3 separate regions of the Homo sapiens genome follow, and regions 2 and 3 are each linked to region 1. The links come from fine-mapping of genetic effects on gene expression. A gene starts in region 1. Each other region holds a variant in brackets. All regions are shown on one strand. Distances are from middle to middle.

What was found. PIP is the estimated chance that this variant, and not a neighbour inherited with it, causes the effect. A credible set is the group of variants that fine-mapping cannot tell apart.
Region 2: its variant is the best candidate, but not a certain one, in a credible set for the expression of DUS2 in whole blood (INTERVAL, PIP 0.89).
Region 3: its variant is the best candidate, but not a certain one, in a credible set for the expression of DUS2 in whole blood (INTERVAL, PIP 0.62).

What each region holds. Positions count from the first base shown.
Region 1 is chr16:68,019,519-68,026,590 of GRCh38, forward strand. It overlaps DUS2 (dihydrouridine synthase 2), which reads left to right and starts at 3,766. Exons shown (of 17, transcript NM_017803.5): 1 at 3,766-3,833; 2 at 5,897-5,976. DDX28 (DEAD-box helicase 28) reads right to left here and starts at 3,714. Exons shown (of 1, transcript NM_018380.4): 1 at 1,398-3,714. The coding sequence starts at 3,684. The coding sequence ends at 2,062. RefSeq lists enhancers at 2,415-3,165, 3,166-3,916, 3,627-3,866.
Region 2 is chr16:67,911,919-67,918,990 of GRCh38, forward strand. The region is part of intron 2 of PSKH1 (protein serine kinase H1); the gene reads left to right. Among named protein-coding and RNA genes, the nearest start is that of CTRL, 16 kb to the right of the region's middle. RefSeq lists an enhancer at 3,798-4,321. The variant T/A (reference allele first, on the strand shown) is at 3,292.
Region 3 is chr16:68,118,590-68,123,589 of GRCh38, forward strand. NFATC3 (nuclear factor of activated T cells 3) reads left to right here. Exons shown (of 10, transcript NM_173165.3): 2 at 3,398-4,532. Among named protein-coding and RNA genes, the nearest start is that of NFATC3, 36 kb to the left of the region's middle. RefSeq lists a silencer at 483-612. The variant G/A (reference allele first, on the strand shown) is at 2,370.

The DNA.
Region 1 (7,072 bases):
TAATCCTAGCACTTTGCGAGGTGGAGGCAGGAGTATCTCTTGAGCCCAGGAATTTGAGACCAGCGTGGGTAACATAGCTAGACCTTGTGTCTATTTTTTTTATATTTAAAAAAAGGCGATTTGGTCCTACTCAAAGGAAACAGGCAACTCTGCCCTTAGCCTGATCAGGACCACACTAGGAGCAGCCTTTGGTTCAGTGTGGCCAAGAACTTCCTACCAAAGAGAGATGACCTTAAGGAGAGGTCTCCCTATTACTGGCCTTGAAAAAGCAAACATGGGACATTTATTTAGTGGGGTTATTGCAGAGGGGATATGCCCAGGAGGTAGAGACGGCCCGATCTTTGGAGACTGGGTCACCCCGGTTGAGAATCATAGCACCTTCTCTCATAAGTTGCTTTAGTGTGGTGCTAATTGATGGCCTGCAGGGAGTGGTAGGAGGTAAAATATCAAGGGGATGGTTCCTGGGAAGTCTGTTCTGGCAGGAGGGCTAGCATGAGATCACTCAGATTCTCCAAGGCTCTGGAGAGAGTACTTGTCCGGAAGCATCCCTCTTGTCTTGTGGGGGTACAAAGCCTTACAGGAATTTGCTGGGACTCTGGGAAAGGCAGTACAGCATAGACAAATGGTTTATCAATTTGGGAGGGCCCAAGTATCACCTGGGGGAGTTTACAAAGAGTATTCTCAGGTCAAACTTTAGAGAGCTTAATCCCATCTGGAGTGGGGCTCAGGATTCTGTTATTTTTTTTGAGACAGAATATCAGCTCTGTCACCCAGGCTGGAGTGCAGAAGTGCAATTTTGGCTCACTGAAACCTTCGCCTCCAGAATTCAAGCCATTCTTGTGCCTCAGCCTCCCAAGTATTTGGGATTACAGGCGTGCACCACCACATTCAGCTAATTTTTTTGTATTTTTAATAGAGATGGGGTTTCGCATGTTTACCAGGCTGGTCTTAAACTCCTGACCTCAGGTGATCCTCCTGCCTCAGCCTCCCAAAGTGCTGGCATTACAGGCGTGAGCCACCACACCCGGCTTTTTTTTTTTTTTTTTTTTGAGATGGAGTCTTGCTCTGTCCCCTAGGCTGGAGTGTAGTGGTATGATCTTGGCTCACTGCAACCTCCGCCTCCCAGGTTCAAGTGATTCTCCTGCCTCAGCCTCCCGAGTAGCTGGGACTACAGGCGCGTGCCACCACGCCGGGTTGATTTTTGTAATTTTTTTTTGTGTATATATATATATACACATATATATATACACGTATATATATATACACGTATATATATATATACATATATATATATACGTATATATATGTATGTGTATATATATATATACGTATGTATATATATATATATATATATATATATACGTATATATATATATAAAGAAAATGCTATATGGTTATTTTTCCAGTTTTGTAAAACCGTTTAATCATCTCTCCTCTTTCTCGGCTACCGAGTTGGGATAGAAGGCAGAACCTGAAAATGTACAAGCAAAACTTCTGTGTTCGTCTACCCTTTACTTTTCTGCCAGTACCTTCCAGAGATTTCGCCAAGACGCCCGTTTGTCTTGGGCATTGTTAGAGAGTAACTCTGTCTACTGCTAGTCACATTTCCTTTCCTTTCCTTTCCCTGGGGGCTTAATGGATACCTTTTTGGGGGCAGGAAATACAAACTAAATGTTTATAAATGAAAACATCAACTGAAAGAGCCTTTGTCCTAGATGTGGAGGTTTGGTGTATGAATCCTCAGAAACTACTGAATTCCGCCCCGGTGCTAATTATTCTTAGGGGAGGCACATAAAAACATCATTTATTGTTAGAAATCATGACATGATACAAAGTCAAAATCCACTTGTGTCTTGCTAAAGACTACAGAAAGCCATGCTCAGCAGCTTCTTCTCCAATGCTGGCCAGCAGCGTACCTTTCCAAGTCACAAAGCAGTTCATCCCGCCCTCAAGGAGCCGACAGGGCAGCCCAGAGCCTCCCACTGACAAGTGTGGTCACCCACTCAAGATACTGGGAAAGATCCCTGTTCTAGCATCACATTTTAATCAGATTTGTCAAAATCAGGTTGCTTGGGGCAAAGGCTCTTTCACCGAGGATGCTAGTCCTGGAAGACTTCTCCTTCGGCGAGCCGCCAGCTCAATCTTCTGAACCAGGCTCACATCCCAGGGATGGGTCACAAAACTGATGACGGTGCCTGGCACCTCGCTCCCCACACGGCCCACTCTCCCTGCTCTGTGGATGTAATCTTGCAGCGTTGGGGGGAAATCATAATTGACAACCAGCTCCACACCAGTGCTGTCCAGGCCCCGAGAGGCTATGTCTGTGCAGAGAAGTATGTCTCGGGAGCTCTTCTGGAAGGACTGGAAGATTCCTACCCTCATCAAGGCTGGCATTTGCCCCTGCAACCTTAGGTGTTGGATTTTGTGGTCATCCAGAATATATCCCAGCCAGTTCACAGTGCTGGAGCTATTACAGAACACCAGAACAGTTCCTGAGGGACCAGTCCTTTCTGCTCTGTCACGATGCTTGAGGATGTGCACCAGCTCGGCCACCTTATCTGCTCCCTTCAGTCTCAGAAATGTCTGTTTCACATGAGGCATGATACAGTGGAGCTTGGAGCTGGTGATGGTGGTGACAGCATCTGGGCTGGCGACTTTATTCAGCAACTGGCCTACACCTTCGGGAAATGTGGCTCCTACCAGCACTAACTGAGCTTTGGGATTGAAGGGGTCTTCCAAGTCAGCTGGGCCTTCTGCTATGTGGCTCTTCTCTAAGATGTAGTCCACCAGTTCCAGGAAGCTTTCATCCAGCAGTGTGTCTGCCTCATCCAACACCAAGAAGGAGAGTTGCTCCAGACTGATCAGTCGACTTTTCAGGGCCTTCCACAGAGCCCCTGGAGTGGCCACAAGCACATCTGCTGAAGGCTGTCTGGACAGCTGCAGCCTGATCCTACGCATGCCGTGGCCTCCCTCCAGGTCCCGCACCAGCAGGCCCAAGGAGCGGCCCAAGGGTTGGGCCACAGCCCGCACCTGTTGGGCCAATTCTCGGGAAGGAACAAGGACCAGGCCTCGGGGCGCGGGGATAGGAAGGGAGTCCAGGCTTGGCTGGCCCAAGAGCCGTTGAAGCAGCGGCAGGAGGTAGCTGAGAGTCTTGCCACTGCCGGTTTCTGCGGCGCAAACGACATGGCGGCCGCGAAGTAGTGAGGGGATGGTGCTAGACTGCACGGTTGTGGGCTGAACGACTTCAGGCGCAGCCTCCTGTAGTGCGTGCAGCACACGGGGCTCCAGGCCCAGGTCAGCAAAGCTGCCCTTAGACGAGAGCTTTCGCACCGCTGGCGCCTCCTGTTGCGCGCGCTCGATGGAGAAGTGGTCCCGACGCGCGCGTCGACTCTTCCAGCCTTGAGAGGCTAGCGGCGCGCGCTCCCAACGGCCCAGTGTGAGGCGCGCCGGCTGGTTCAACTCCGGCCGCCGCGCCGAAACCAGCAGCGGTCCGGGTCGAACCAGCACCGGCCTCGGGAGGTTCCGCCGCCTGCTCTGCCGCTGTTCCAACTGCCGCTGTAGAGCCACTGGGATGCGCACCACCGGCAGGGGTTCGTCGGGACTGCGGACCGTGAGGCCCCGTCGCGGCGCCAGGAGCAACCGAGTCACGAGGGAAAAGAGCCGCACCGGCCGCGTTAGAGCCATGTTTCCCTTAGTGCGGGAGAAGCGCACATCAGTGACGTCACGGACGCGCCGCGACCTCGCGTACGGTGGCTGGCGAGGCTCAGTACGGTGTGTGGAGCTGGAGCACCGTGAGGAAGAAGCGAGGTTCTTTTTAAGAGTTCAGCTGCGAGGTCTGTAGCTCCGAATAGGGGATGGCGACATCCAGACCCGGCCAGCCTTGGGGAAGGGCGCGTCGTGGAGGCAGGACTGGAGGCTGGCGATACGAGGCGGCAGTGGGGCCTTGACCCAATGGACCATGAGGGCGGAGGGCTTCTGGCGATTGGTTACCTGGTTCCTGGGATTCTCTTTAGTTGTTCCTCATTGCCCTGAGATAGCTTGTCCCGTGCTGGTATCCGAGGTTGCAGCTGTTTTCCCAGATGTGTTCCCTGCGCAGGGTCTGGTAATCCGTGTTTATTGAGAGTTTGAATGAATGATCAGGCCTAGGGGCCGAGACAGGGGTCTGAAGTCATAGATCTGGGCTCAACCCCTCACCCTCTCTGTCTGTGAGCCCAGAGTGCAAGCTGATGGCTTTCAGCTTCTTCTCTCTCTCAAGTGGGAGATAAGGTCTTCAGGTTTTATTTCAAGTTGGGTCATCTTTTCTTCACAGTTATTTTCCTTCCTTTTAAGCCAAGGTTCACTCTCTACTCCCTCGTCACGCGTCCCAACTTCTCATCCAGAACCCACCCCTCTTGCAGCCCGCTCAGCTCCACTGGCTTCCCCGTCAGAAACCTGAATTACCTAAAATAGTAGTAAGAAGGGTGCTGCGACCCTACAAAGTGATCAAGTACGTGGCTTATCATGTAGCCCTGGTCAGGCAGAATATTTTACCTGAATTCAGATATTCGGGTTGTAAAAACAAGAACTATACGAGTCACTTTTTTTTTTTTTTTTTCTGAGACACAGTCTCGTTCTGTCACCCAGGCTGGAGTGCAGTGGCGCAATCTCGGCTCACTGCAACCTCCACCTCCTGGGTTCAGGTGATTCTCCTGCCTCTGCCTCCCAAGTAGCTGAGACTACAGCCGTACACCACCCACGCCCGGCTAATTTTTTCTGTTTTTAGTAGAGACAGGGTTTCACTATGTAGGCCTGGCTGGTCTCGAACTCCTGGCCTCAAGCGATCTTCCCACCTCGGCCTCCCAAAGTGATGGGATTATAAGCGTGAGCCACCATGCCCAACAGATACTTCTTGAACAGATCTGGAAAATGGGTGTCAGATCTTTTCTGTAATTTGCAGTGCCTGGGGTGGGAGATAAGGTAAATATTTATGGATTAACTCTCTGGGAGGTTCGTAACATCTGGAGAAAACGTTTTAGTTTCATCAAATACCAATGAAAAGATAAAAACTTTGCTTTTTTTGGAATAGTATGAGGAAAAACTTTCACAATTTTAAGTACACTCTACCCTTGTGCTACACAATTAGACTTTCTGGAGAGTTACCAGATAAATCAGAGGAAGAGAGGCTTTTTTTCTCCACAAGAAAATATCTGGAAGTAGGAAGAGAAAGTTTTGAGTAGTGATGGGTGAATGAACAGTCATTGGATAGGGTAGTGGTTCTAAAACAAGGGTGATTTTGCCCTTTCCCTCCCACCATATTTGACAATGGCTGGATACTTTTTTTTTTTTTTTTTTTATAGACAGTCTCACTGTGTTGCCCAGGCTGGAGTACAGTGGTGCGATGTCAGCTCACTGCAGTCTCTGCCTTCTGGGTTCAAGGGATTCTCCTGCATCAGCCATCTGAGTAGCTGGGATTAGAGGTGTGCGCTACCACTCCCAGCTAATTTTTGTATTTTTAATAGAGACAGGGTTTCACTACGTTGGGCAGGCTGGTCTCAAACTCCTGACCTCATGATTTGCCCACCTTGGTCTCCCAAAGTGCTGAGATTACAGGTGTGAGCCGCTGTGCCCGGCCCAATTCTATGCTACTTTTATGATTCTTTCCAAACTCAGGGCTTCTCCTTATCCAAATAGTTCCTTGGGGCCAGGCTCATGCCTGTAATCCCAGCTACTCGGGAGGCTGAGGCAGGATAATCGTTTGAACCCGGGAGGCGGAGGTTGTTGCAGTGAGCCGAGATCGCACCATTGCACTCCAGCCTGGGCGACAGGGCGAGACTCTGTCTCAAAAAAAAAAAAAAAAGGTCCCTTGGATGTTTGTCCCAACAGGTTTCATCCATTTCCATGTGCCACTGTTTTTCAGATATCAAACAAAGAATTACTCTGTACAAAGCCAGAACACATATATCAAAGTAATCCTGAAGTATCAGAACAAAATAATAGGTATGTATATGCATTTGGGTTTTTGGGTTTTGTTCAAATATCCAGGGTAGGGTAGCTGGTTAATATATAGTTGTTTTCTCATTATGCTTGAGTCCTTACAATATGATTACCTCAAAATTTCACAGGAGTTAGAGCTTGCCTAAGCCTGTCTGTGTCCGTGGCCACTAATTTCTTCTTGTCACATCACTAGACACTGCCTACCTTTTTTCCCCCTCACTCACAGAGGACATTGATTAACTTCTAAATGTTTTCTGAGATATTTTTATAAGTAGTGCTTTAGAAATAGGAAAGGTATCCTTATTGTGAAAAAAAATCTAAGCTCCTGAGATCAGGAGCTTGGTGTGTTCCTTGGATCTCAGTTAATAATGGTATATTCATTCATTCATTCAATCATTCATTCAACAAATACTTCCTGAGCACCACGCATGTGCCAGGCATTGGTAGTGAGGAAAACAGCCAAAATCCCTGCCCTTGTGGAGTTTACATTCTGATTTAATTGATTTGGGTTAAGGCCTAGACAAGGTCTTGCTCTGTCACCCAGGCTAGACTTCAGTGGTGCCATCTCGACTCACTGTAACCTCTGCCTCCCAGGTTCAAGTGATTCTTCTGCCTCAGCCACCCCAGTAGGTGGGATTACAGGCACGTGCTACCAAACCCGGCTAATTTCTGTATTTTTAGTAGAGATGAGGTTTTGCCATTTTGACCAGGCTGATCTCGAACTCCTGACCTCAGTTGATCTGCCTGCCTTGGCCTCCCGAAGTGCTGGGATTACAGATGTGAGCCATTGTGCCCAGCCGAGAAATTGGTATTTTTAGAAACCTCTCCAGATGTAACTAGGCTTGAGAATCACAGTTATAAATGAAGCACTTTGGGAATTGCAAAGCATTACAGCAATAAAAAGTGCTATTGGTATTACTTTATTGTTCCTCCATTTTCCCACCTGTAGCAGGGCTGTGCGCAGGTAATCATATTTTCAGTCATTATCACTATAGTATTCCTGGACCCTTTGACCTTCCTTCTCATCCAGCTCCCTACCTGCTCTTTGTTTTTTACCCTCTGGTCTACCTTCTGTTTCCCGAGTGATGTTATTAAAGCA
Region 2 (7,072 bases), 110 kb before region 1:
AGGCACAAGGGAGGGTATCTGTTTGTACCACTCTTAGGAGATCGTTGCGTAGGAGTCAGGCAGGTGGTGAAGATTTATACCAGTAACTGGGATCTGTGGGCCTAGGGGTGAAGGGGCCACTGTAGACCACTAGATGCTTACTGCAGAGTGGTCAGCCTTGTGGAGAACTCAGTCCTGGCCCACTGTCATTCTCAGATTTTATGTGGACAGGTGGGTTCTGCAGAAAATCTGGCTGTCACATGCTTATAGCACTGAGCAGTAAATGGGACCATACTGGTACTGAATGAGAGCCTGGGAAGCCAGAGAATAGTCCCTTATACTCAGTTAAAAGTCAGGAGTGCCCAACAGTGAATTAACTGTTACACTCGGGACCATTCCAGTCTAATTAGATTTGACTCAAGGCTCAGATAAAGCTTTGGGTTTGGTTCCCAGCATCATCATGGCAAGTGTGAGCTTTTGGTGTCTATGGAAGGCACTGGGAAGAGTGAGAGGAGCAGGCACAGGTGGTGATAGAGGGAACAATTTAAAGACAAGCCCCTTTATCCTGATGATGATCCCCTCAGTAACGTTGGGGCAATGCCTTGATGTTTACTTGGTTCTCAGATATGGATTGGCCATCAGGTTGGCACAATCTGTGGCTATAAACTGGCAATAAGAAATCCTCTCCCAGCCGGGTACGGTGGCTCACGCCTGTAATCCCAGCACTTTGGGAGGCCAAGGTGGGCAGATCACCTGAGGTTGGGAGTTCGAGACCAGCCTGACCAACATGGTGAAACCCCGTCTCTACTAAAAATGCAAAATTAGCCGGGCGTGGTGGCACATGCCTGTAATCCCAGCTACTCGGGAGGCTGAGGCAGGAGAATCACTTGAACCCATGAGGCAGAGGTTGCAGTGAGCCGAGATTGTGCCATTGCACTTCAGCCTGGGCAACAAGAGCGAAACTCTGTCTCAAAAAAAGAAACAAAAAAAAAGAAATCCTCTCCCAGGCTGGGCATGGTGGCTCACATTTGTAATCTCAGCACAGTTTGGGAGGCTGAGGCAGGAGGATCACCTGAAGCCAGGAGTTTGAGACCAGCCTGGGCAACATAGCGAGACCCCATCTCTTAAAAAAAATTTTTTTTAGCCAGGTGTGGGCACATGCCTGTAGTCCCAGCTACTCAGGAGGCTGAGGTGGGAGGATCACTTGAGCCCAGGAGTTCAAGGTTGCAGGGAGCTGTGAATGTGCCACTGCACTCCAGCCTGTGTGAAGACGGAGTCTTGCCCTGTTACCCAGGCTGGAGTGCAGGGGTGCGATCTTGGCTCACTGCAGCTTCCGCCTCTCAGGTTCAAGTGATTCTCCCGCCTCAGCCTCCCGAGTAGCTGGGACTACAGGCATGCGCCACCACGCACGGCTAATGTTTTGTATTTTTAGTAGAGATGGGGTTTCACCATGTTGGCCAGGCTGGTCTCAAACTCCTGACCTCAGGTGATCTGCCTGCCTTGGCCTCCCAAAGTGCTGGGGTTACAGATGTGAGCCACCACACCTGGCCAAGACCCTGTCTTAAAAAAAATTTTTTTTTTTAAAAAGCCTGTCCTGGTGTTCTGGGATAGAGCTATAAAAGCATGCCAGGTTGCTGGCAGGAGCTTGAAGGAGGTGCTGCCTCTGCTTACCAGGAGACCGTCTAGCTGTGAAGTGAGTGGCTGGAAGGAGTGATTGCTGGGTCCCATTCTAGCGATGTCTGTCCTCACCTCCATGCAGAAAAGTAAAGAGAAACCAGAGCCCTGCCAGGGAGTGGCAGAGGCTGGTACTTCTCAGACTCCTGATGTTCATACACATCCCCTGGAATCTCGTTAAAATGTAGATTCTGATTTAATAGGTCTAGGTAGGGCCTGAGGGTCTGCATTTCTAATAAACACCAGGTGGTGTTGATAACACTGACCTATAAGAACATGCTTTAGGAGCAGGTTTTTTAGGCAGGTGCCTTAAAAGTGGGCTGGGGTGGTGAGGGACAGTCTTAGAGAAGAGGGAACCTGGAATTTGGAGCATGGCTGTGAGGAGTCAGACCAAGAAAAAGGGAATGATAGCTACAGAAGTATAGGAGGGAGAAAGCAGGAGGCAGGCCTGGGGGCAATGGCCTGAGGGACAGGTTCATATATAGCTGTGGTCCGTCAGAGGACCCTGCAGGGTACTTGGGAAGTTCAGTTGTCCTAATAGCAGGCTCTGGAGAACCACGTGAAGTTGTAGCTGAAACTGAATTTTTTTTTTTTTGAGATGGAGTTTCGCTCTTGTTGCCCAGGCTGGAGTGCAATGGGGCGATCTTGGCTCACTGCAACCTACGCCTCCTGGGTTCAAGCGATTCTCCTGCCTCGGCCTCCCAAGTAGCTGGGATTACAGGCATGCGCCACCATGCCCAGATATCTAATTTTGTATTTTTAGTAGAGATGGGGTTTCTTCTTGTTGGTCAGGCTGGTCTCGAACTCCCAACCTCAGGTGATCCGCCTGCCTCAGCCTCCCAAAGTGGTGGGATTACAGGCGTGAGCCACTGTGTCCGGTCTGAATTTTTTTTTTTTCTTTGAGATGGAGTCTCGCTCTGTCGCCCAGGCTGGAGTGCAGTGGCACGATCTCAGCTCACTGCAGCCTCCACCTCCCAGGTTCCAGCGATTCTCCTGCCTCAGCCTCCCGAGTAGCTGGGATTACAGGAGTGTGCCACCATGCCCGGCTAATTTTTGTATTTTAGTAGAGACGGGGTTTCGGCATATTGGCTAGGCTGATCTTAAACTCCTGACCTCAGGTGATCTGCCCGCCTCAGCTTCCCAAAGTGCTAGGATTACAGGCGTGAGCCACCGCACCCGGTGAAACTGAAATTTTAAGATAGATCTGGGAATGTCTGAAGCTTGAGAAGCTGATTGTGTTCTGGGAGCACTGCATGGTGCCAGGCTGTTGAGGGTCCAGCTGGCAGAGGGGGCATTGAACTTAGCCCAGGAGTGAGGGAGAGAGATTTCCCAAGATACGCTGACAGAGGAAGGACTCTGCTACAAGCCTGTAGGTTTGCCTGAGTTCCTGATTCTGGCAGTCGTTGACCTGGCAGCTAATCTAATTGGAGCTTGCACAGTCTTGCTAACTGGCTATTGATTACCTGAGGGTTGGAAAATGACGAATGGGGTGGGGAGTGGGTTCCTGCCCGCTCCTACTGTAGCCGAAAGACTGGGTCCTTAGATTCTGTTGTTCTTCTGCTGGAATCACAGGGCAGGACTCTGCAGCTCACAGTGAATGAGTGAGTGAATGAGTGAGTGAGTGAGAGAGAGAGAGAG[T/A]GTGTGTGTGTGTGTGTGTGTGTGTGTGTGTGTTGGAGAGGCACTGCTCAGCCTTTGCTCCCACTACCCTTTACCTGGAGCTGAAAAGCATCAGTTTCCAGCTCCAGAGGCAAATCCTGGCAGGTTCTGGTGGCCCTTATCTGTGACCAGGAGCTTGCCTGACCCCAAAAATCAGATTCTATCACCCGCTGTGGAGAGCTCTGGGTTGGGAGGGATCCGTCTGGGACATTTCCTGGGGGAGGGGTCCTTATCATGAGATCAGGCTCTCTCAGCTGGAGAACATCCAGCAGACCCTCAGGCCCCACAAAACCTGTTGAATCAGAATCTACATTTTAATGAGATTCCAGGGGATGTGCATAAACATCAGGAGTCTGAGAAGTACCAGCCTCTGCCACTCCCTGGCAGAGCCCTGGTTTCTCTTTACTTTTCTGCATGGAGGTGAGGACAGACATCGCTAGAATGGGACCCAGCAATCACTCCTTCCAGCCACTCACTTCACAGCTAGACGGTCTCCTGGTAAGCAGAGGCAGCACCTCCTTCAAGCTCCTGCCAGCAACCTGGCATGCTTTTATAGCTCTATCCCAGGACACTAGGACAGGCATTTTTTGTTATTGTTGTTCTCCTGGCCACTGCCCACCCACAAGCACACCTGCTCACACCTGGGGAAAATGCAAGAGACGTGAAGGCCTGTTCTTCCTATCCCTAGAGGTTGAGATTGCCTGGGGAGAAGGAACTAGAATAGGGAATGGCCATAGAATGAACCCGCATTGGCAGACACATGTGAACACAGGCCTTGGCATAGAGCCACTGGGCCTGGGCAGTCTGGAACATGGACTATGGTGCTCAGGTCAGGTGGTTGGGCCCTGACCCCACCCACTCCAGCCATCTGTCCTATATGTGTAATAGGTGTTTGCCATTAGGAAGGCCATGTAAGTGAGCAAGCCTCTGCCAGGATAACCTGTGAGAGAGAGAGTGTTCCATGATGAGGGGGTTGTTGCTGTGTGAATGAAGGACCTCTGACGCAGCAGCGTTTGGAGGTATGCATTCTTCACCAGCGAGTGTCTCGTGGTGCTTGGTGCCTTTCTAGGGGCACCTTTCCTGTTCCCTGACCCCATAGAGTGCTCTCCCCTGTACACCAGGCCGGGTCTGGTGTGCCTATTTCCTGCAAGCTCTGTCCATGCAGCCCCAGTCCTCTGTCAGGCTCAGTGGCATCCATGGACTTGAATAGAAAGCTTCCTGCAGAAGATGAGTTTTGAGAAGGAGGAGGCCCAGAGAAGGGAGCATTGCTGAGTGCTCCAGAATAAACAGGAGATTGGGAGTGACAGAGCAGAGGTTGAAGAGGCTGGGGCAGGTCTGGTGTTTGTTGTTGGGAGCCCTCTGCACTGTGGGAGGAGCCCTCTGGGTTCTGGGTAATGGAGGAGGAAGGCAGCAGAAAGTGGGAATGGAGCCTGGCAGGAGGAAGGCTAGCTGGAGGCTACTGGAATAATTCCATCCTGTCCTCCTGGGGATGTTTGGGGCAGATCAGGGATCCCAGGGAGTGGGATCCACATGGCATATGTAAGCCACAGTATAGGAGGTGAAGGAGTATGGAGCAGAGTCCTAGCTCTGCAGGAGGGACATCAGCTTGTATGGGCAGACTTGGAGAGGATTCCAGGCTACCCTCTGACCTGGAGAGCATGTGGGGTCCTGCCTACCATCCTGGCACTCCAGATCCCCCAGCCTGAAGCCCATGCCCTAGACCCCACCCCACTCCCTGCACACCACAGGCCTGAGCCATTGCCCCCATTCACTCTCCACACCAAGCTTCTGCCTCAACTGTTCACGCTGCTCCCAGTATCGGTCTTAGTTGTTTCCTTTAGAAATAATGCTGCCTACTGCCATTGTGTGGTGCCCACTAAGTAGCAGACCCAGGGCTGAATGTTCTACACCCCCCATCTCCAATCTATGACAACCCTGCCAGGTGGTACGTAATCCCCCACCTTACAGATGAGGAAACTGAGGATGGTGAGGTTACATAACTTGGCCATGGTCTCCCGACTGGAGGGTGGCACATCTGGGATTTGATTCCAGGCTGTCTTGGCTTCAGAGTTCTTGGCCTGTCTAGTGCTGCAGTCTGCTCTCCCTGGTATGTGTGCCTCAGCACGTTGCTGGTTTCTTGTTTCAGTGCTTTCTGGCTGCTGATCAGTGGACACATCTCTCCTGTCTAGCCTGTAGGGTCCTTGAGGACAGCATGTACATCAATACATATGCTGTCCACTGTCGTGTCCAGGCTTAGTGCACAGTGGTACCTGTATGCTGGGTTGAACTGCAGTATTTATAAGTGATAACTGGTGGGGGAATTTTCTCTTGGCTTCTCCTGAGGGAAGCACCAGTGGCTATTGGTGATGCCCTGGGAAGCGTCCCAAATGTGACTGCTGGCAGGCAGACAGGCTGTGCAGCCAGTGGAGTGCTCCCCTCAAGGGGCCAGACTCCAGGAGGAAGCAGAGAGCCTGCTGGCAATGCGCTTAGGGGGCTGCTGGCCACAGCTGCCTGTGGGCACAGGCAGGGGGAGGATTTAAAGGCCCAGGGCTGGTGTGTGCTTGTCAACTTTTAGGGCAAATACAAGACTCTTGGAAGAGGGGTAAATGCTGAGGAGGAGATGACTGGAAAGGAAAAATCTGAATGTTTACCCAGCACCCAGAGGCACTGGAGTGGAGAGGGCACGCTGGAGTGGAGAGGGCATGCTGGAAGTGGTGGGGAGACACAGGTTGGGAGAGGTAGCGAAGGCCTGTGTGAATGTGAGAGCAGTTTGAGGACACAGTCACCTTGAGAGGCGGCTTCCTATCACAGGAGGCCTGGAGGAGCTGTTTCTAAAGGATGACACAGAAGGTGAGTCATCAGCTACAGACTCATGCTAGAGAACTGTCAGGGTCCTCCAATGCAGAGAGTCTGTGATTCACTTGACATGAAATGTGACATCCTTGATGTCAGTGCTTTTGTCAAGAGTTCTATTCCTAGAGGCAGGACGGATGAAGGGGCTCTTGTAGGATTGATATTAGAGTGATGCCATTAGGAGCTTTGCTGTCTGCTGCATTCAGCATCCTGAATTATCACCCTCCTCTGCTTGGCCAGTCTCTGAGCTGTGGGTGAGCCCAGGTGACTGTACTAGGAACAGGTGGGCTTGGGTAGAATTTCTCACAGAGCCTTGTGAGTGCTGCTGGGCAGGGGACAGAGTACTGTTGGGAGAGGAAGCCCACCTTCATAGCCACTCTGCTGCTACCTGGGTGACAAGGGCTGGTGGGAGGTGGCCTCCCAGGGTTGGGTGTCTGGTCTGCAGGTTGACCATACATTGATCTGGGGCTAAGTATACCTGAAGGGGCAATGAGCTTGACCACCTGTAGTTCTTTTTTTTTTTTTTTTTGAGATGGAGTCTTACTCTGTCGCCCAGGCTGGAGTGCAGTGGTGTGATCTCGGCTCACCAAAGCCTCCACCTTTTGGGTTCAAGCAATTCTCCTGCCTCAGCCTCCCAAGTAGCTGGGATTATAGGTGCCAGCCACCACACCTGGCTAATTTTTGTATTTTTAGTAGAGACGGGGTTTTACCACGTTGGCCAGGCTGGTCTGGAACTCCTGACCTCAGGTGATCTGCCTGCCTTGGCCTCCCAAAGTGCTGGGATTACAGGTGTGAGCCACCACACTCGACCTCCCCACTTCTTAAAGTGACTCTAACATGCCTTGGGATGTAGAAGATAAAATGAGATGCAGAGAATGTGGCATGTCTCAGTGCTCTCTAGGTGACGGGG
Region 3 (5,000 bases), 98 kb after region 1:
TGCCTACTTTCTTCTCTATTTGTACTAATTTCTTAGTGATCTTTTGGTCTTATGGCTTTAAATTTCATATATACGTTAATGATTCCCACATTTACATAGCTAGCTTGTGTTCTTATGCACAAATATCTATTTGACATTTCCACTTGGAAAGCTTACTGGACTCTCATATTTAATATGTACAAAGTAGAAGTTTTGGTTTCTTATCTCAAGTCTGTCTCACTTTCTTTATTTCAGTAATTGCTGTTCTTTCAGAAATTCAGAAAATTTCAGAAATACTGTATTGTTGTTGTTGTTTTTTGAGACAGCCTCGCTCTGTTGCCCAGGCTGGAGTGCAATGGCGCGATCTTGGCTCACTGCAAGCTCTGCCTCCTGGGTTCACGCCATTCTCCCACCTCAGCCTCCCGAGCAGCTGGGACCACAGGCGCCTGCCACCACGCCCGGCTAATTTTTTGTATTTTCAGTAGAGATGGGGTTTCACCGTGTTAGCCAGCATGGTCGTGATCTCCTGATCTCGTGATCCACCCGCCTCGGCCTCTCAAAGTGCTGGGATTAAAGGTGTGAGCCACTGCGCCCGACCAATACTGTGTTTTTAATAATAGTTCAAGGCTTTAAACCTTGGTGTCACCCTTGACTGTTCTTTCACATCCAGTCAACAAGTTCCGTCAGCACTACTTTAATCCAAAATCTGACTTCTTAATGCTGCTTCTGCTTTTACAGCTCACTACCACTTAGGTCCTGTATTCCATCTTTTCTCACCTGGATGATTACAGTAGCCTCCTAAATTTATATCAGTTCATATATATCAAATGATGATACTTTTCTGTTTAGAATGCTCCAGTGGTTTCCCATCTCGTAAGGCCTTACTTGACTAGCCTCTCCCTGACCACCCGTAGCTCTCATTATTCTGCCTCCTTACTCAGTTCAAGTCCCACTGGCCTTGTTTTTTCTCATACAGTACACTTCAACAATGCTGTACCTCAGGTCTTTGCACTTACTATTATCCTCTGCCTGCATTATGCCCCTAAATTTCTGTATAGCTCAGTTACATTAATATTCTTCTGCTATTTCCTCAAGTATTAGAGAAGGCTTTCCAGACTTTCCTATTAAATTAACATCTTTGCCTCCTCTATATTTTTTCCCGTTTTATTTTCTCTTACAGCAAATATCACTACCTGACATATTTTACTAGAATGTAAGCTCCATGAGGAGGGGATTTTGTTTTGTTTACCATGGTGTTTTTAGTATTCAGAACATGCCTGCTTACATAGTAGTTGCTAAAAAATTTTTTTGTTAAATGAATAAGTTGAATCATGTTGTTTCCAGTGTAGACAGAATAGGTATATGTGGTTGAAAAATGAACAGCACAAAGTTAGCTCCCCAAAAATGGCAAAGTGAAATAAAGAAACATTTCTGAAGAACATTGTTGAACTGTAATCCCAGCACTTTGGGAGGCTGGGGCAGTTGGATTGCCTGAGCCCAGGAGTTCAAGATTAGGCTGGGCAACAAAACGAGACCCTGTCTCTACAAAAAAAAAAAAAAAAAATTGCTGGGAGTGGTGGCATGCACCTGTGGTCTCGGCTACTTGAAAGGTTGAGGTGGGAGGATCACTTGACCCAGAAGTTTGAGGCAGCAGTGAGCTATGAGTGCACCACTGCACTCCAGCCTGGGTGACAGAGCGAGACCTAGTCTCAAAAAAAAAAAAAAAAGTCCGGGTGTGGTGGCTCATGCTTGTAATCCTGGCACTTTGGGAGGCCAAGGAGGGTAGATTGCTTGGGGTCAGGAGTTTGAGACCAGCCTGGACAACATGGCAAAACCCTGTCTCTACTAAAAATAACAAAAATTAGCCGAGTGTCATGGCAGGCACCTGTAATTCCAGCTACTTGGGAGGCTGAGGCTTGAGAATCGCCTGAACTTCGGAGGCAGAGGTTGCAGTGAGCCAAGATCGCACCACTGCATTCAAGCCAGAGAGAGACTCTGTCTCAGAAAAAAAAAAAAAAAAAAAAATTAGCTAGGCATGGTGGCGAGTGCCTGTAGTCCCAGCTACTCAGGAGACTGAGACAGGAGGCAGGAGAATTGCTTGAATCCAGGAGGCAAGATTGCGCCACAGCACTCCAGCCTGGGCGACAGAGCAAGACTCCATCTCAAACAAACAAACAAACAAACAAAGAAAAACCCACTTTTGGAACTCTCCTACCTTTGACTACTTGTTATGTTGGATAATATATACAGGTTGATAATGCAGGTTGTTATGTTGGATAATATATACAGGTCATATTCAAAATCTGGAATGTTCCAATATCCTATACTTTTTAGCTCTGACATGATGCCACAAGTGGAGAATTCTTAACACAGACTTTTTTTCATTCACC[G/A]AATTATTAAAAAATATTGTCCAAAATTACCTTTCAGGCTATGTGAATAAGGTATATATGAAACATAAGTGTATTTCATGTTTAGACTTGGGTCCCATATCAAGATATCTCATTGTGTATTTGTAAATGGGCCAAAAAAAAAAAATCCAAAATCCCAAGCACTTCTGGCCTCAAGCATTTTGGATAAGGGATATTCAGCCTGTGTCCCCTCCCCCTTTTTCAGCTACATTGAGTTGGATTTTCTGTTCTTTGCAGCCTAGGAATATCTCATTTCTTTTCTTTTCTTTTTTTTTTTTTTTTTTTTTTGAGACGGAGTCTTGCTGTGTCACCCAGGCTGGAGTACAGTGGCGTGATCTGAGCTCACTGCAGCCTGTATGCTATGAGTATTTTTTAGAATTATGGATGTGTTTTTTTTTTTTTAATAAACACATTTATTGAGCTGGGCACAGACGCTCCCTCACACCTGTAATCCCAGCACTTTGGGAGGCTAAGGTGGGAGGATAGCTTGAGCCCAGCCTTGGCAACAAAGCAAGGCCCTGTGTCTACCAAAAATGACAATAAAAAGTAACCAGGAGTGTGGCATGTACCTGTGTCCCAGCTACTCCAGAGGCTGAGGAAAGGATCACTTGAGCCTAGGATGGGAGGTTGAGGCTTTAGTGAGCTATGATCACACCATTGCACTCCAGTCTAGGTGAGAGAGTGAGACCCTGTCTCAAAAAAAAAAAAAAAAAATCTTTTTCAGGGCATAATGTTTCCTGATTATCTTTTTAGAAAATGTGGACATAAAAAGGAAAAATTACATATGTAATTGTATATGTAATAATCACACATATCTGCAGAAATAACCAGATGCATTGAAAAAACACACACATGCCACTTCTTTAGTGGAGCTAATGACATACATTTTATATCCCACTTTTTTCTCTCGAGATTGTTATTATTTACTTTCTCATCTAGTAATTTATACATCTGAGTTTTCTAATTTCTTGTTTTGTTGGGTTTTTTTTTTTTTGCCTTCCTCCCCGTAGATCTTGAGCCAGATGATTGTGCATCCATTTACATCTTTAATGTAGATCCACCTCCATCTACTTTAACCACACCACTTTGCTTACCACATCATGGATTACCGTCTCACTCTTCTGTTTTGTCACCATCGTTTCAGCTCCAAAGTCACAAAAACTATGAAGGAACTTGTGAGATTCCTGAATCTAAATATAGCCCATTAGGTGGTCCCAAACCCTTTGAGTGCCCAAGTATTCAAATTACATCTATCTCTCCTAACTGTCATCAAGAATTAGATGCACATGAAGATGACCTACAGATAAATGACCCAGAACGGGAATTTTTGGAAAGGCCTTCTAGAGATCATCTCTATCTTCCTCTTGAGCCATCCTACCGGGAGTCTTCTCTTAGTCCTAGTCCTGCCAGCAGCATCTCTTCTAGGAGTTGGTTCTCTGATGCATCTTCTTGTGAATCGCTTTCACATATTTATGATGATGTGGACTCAGAGTTGAATGAAGCTGCAGCCCGATTTACCCTTGGATCCCCTCTGACTTCTCCTGGTGGCTCTCCAGGGGGCTGCCCTGGAGAAGAAACTTGGCATCAACAGTATGGACTTGGACACTCATTATCACCCAGGCAATCTCCTTGCCACTCTCCTAGATCCAGTGTCACTGATGAGAATTGGCTGAGCCCCAGGCCAGCCTCAGGACCCTCATCAAGGCCCACATCCCCCTGTGGGAAACGGAGGCACTCCAGTGCTGAAGTTTGTTATGCTGGGTCCCTTTCACCCCATCACTCACCTGTTCCTTCACCTGGTCACTCCCCCAGGGGAAGTGTGACAGAAGATACGTGGCTCAATGCTTCTGTCCATGGTGGGTCAGGCCTTGGCCCTGCAGTTTTTCCATTTCAGTACTGTGTAGAGACTGACATCCCTCTCAAAACAAGGAAAACTTCTGAAGATCAAGCTGCCATACTACCAGGAAAATTAGAGCTGTGTTCAGATGACCAAGGGAGTTTATCACCAGCCCGGGAGACTTCAATAGATGATGGCCTTGGATCTCAGTATCCTTTAAAGAAAGATTCATGTGGTGATCAGTTTCTTTCAGTTCCTTCACCCTTTACCTGGAGCAAACCAAAGCCTGGCCACACCCCTATATTTCGGTGAGTTGATGGAAATGGCTGCTGGTCATTTTTCATGTTTATGGGTCATTGGTGGCATATAACTACATTATCAGTATATAATGGTTATATAATGGTTTGACCATTTCTCCTCTTCCTATTTTTAAAAAAAATTTTACCAAATAACTTAATGTTTATTTTCATTTGCATCTTAAAAGTATTTTTAGATAGGTTAAATATAATTTTAAAATATATAGCTAATGAATTGTTGATAATAATAAATTACATTTAAAAATCCTTGCTAGGTTTGGAGGCTTATGCTTTGTATTCCCAACACTTGGGAGGCTGAGGCAGGAGGATTGCTTGAGCCCAGGAGTTTGAGACTAGCCTGGGCAACATAGCAAGATCCTGTCTCTACAAAAAAAAAAAAAAAAAAATTAACCAGGCATAGTGATGTCTGCCTGTAGTCCTAGCTGCTTGGGAGGCTGAGGTGGAAGGATTGCTTGAGCC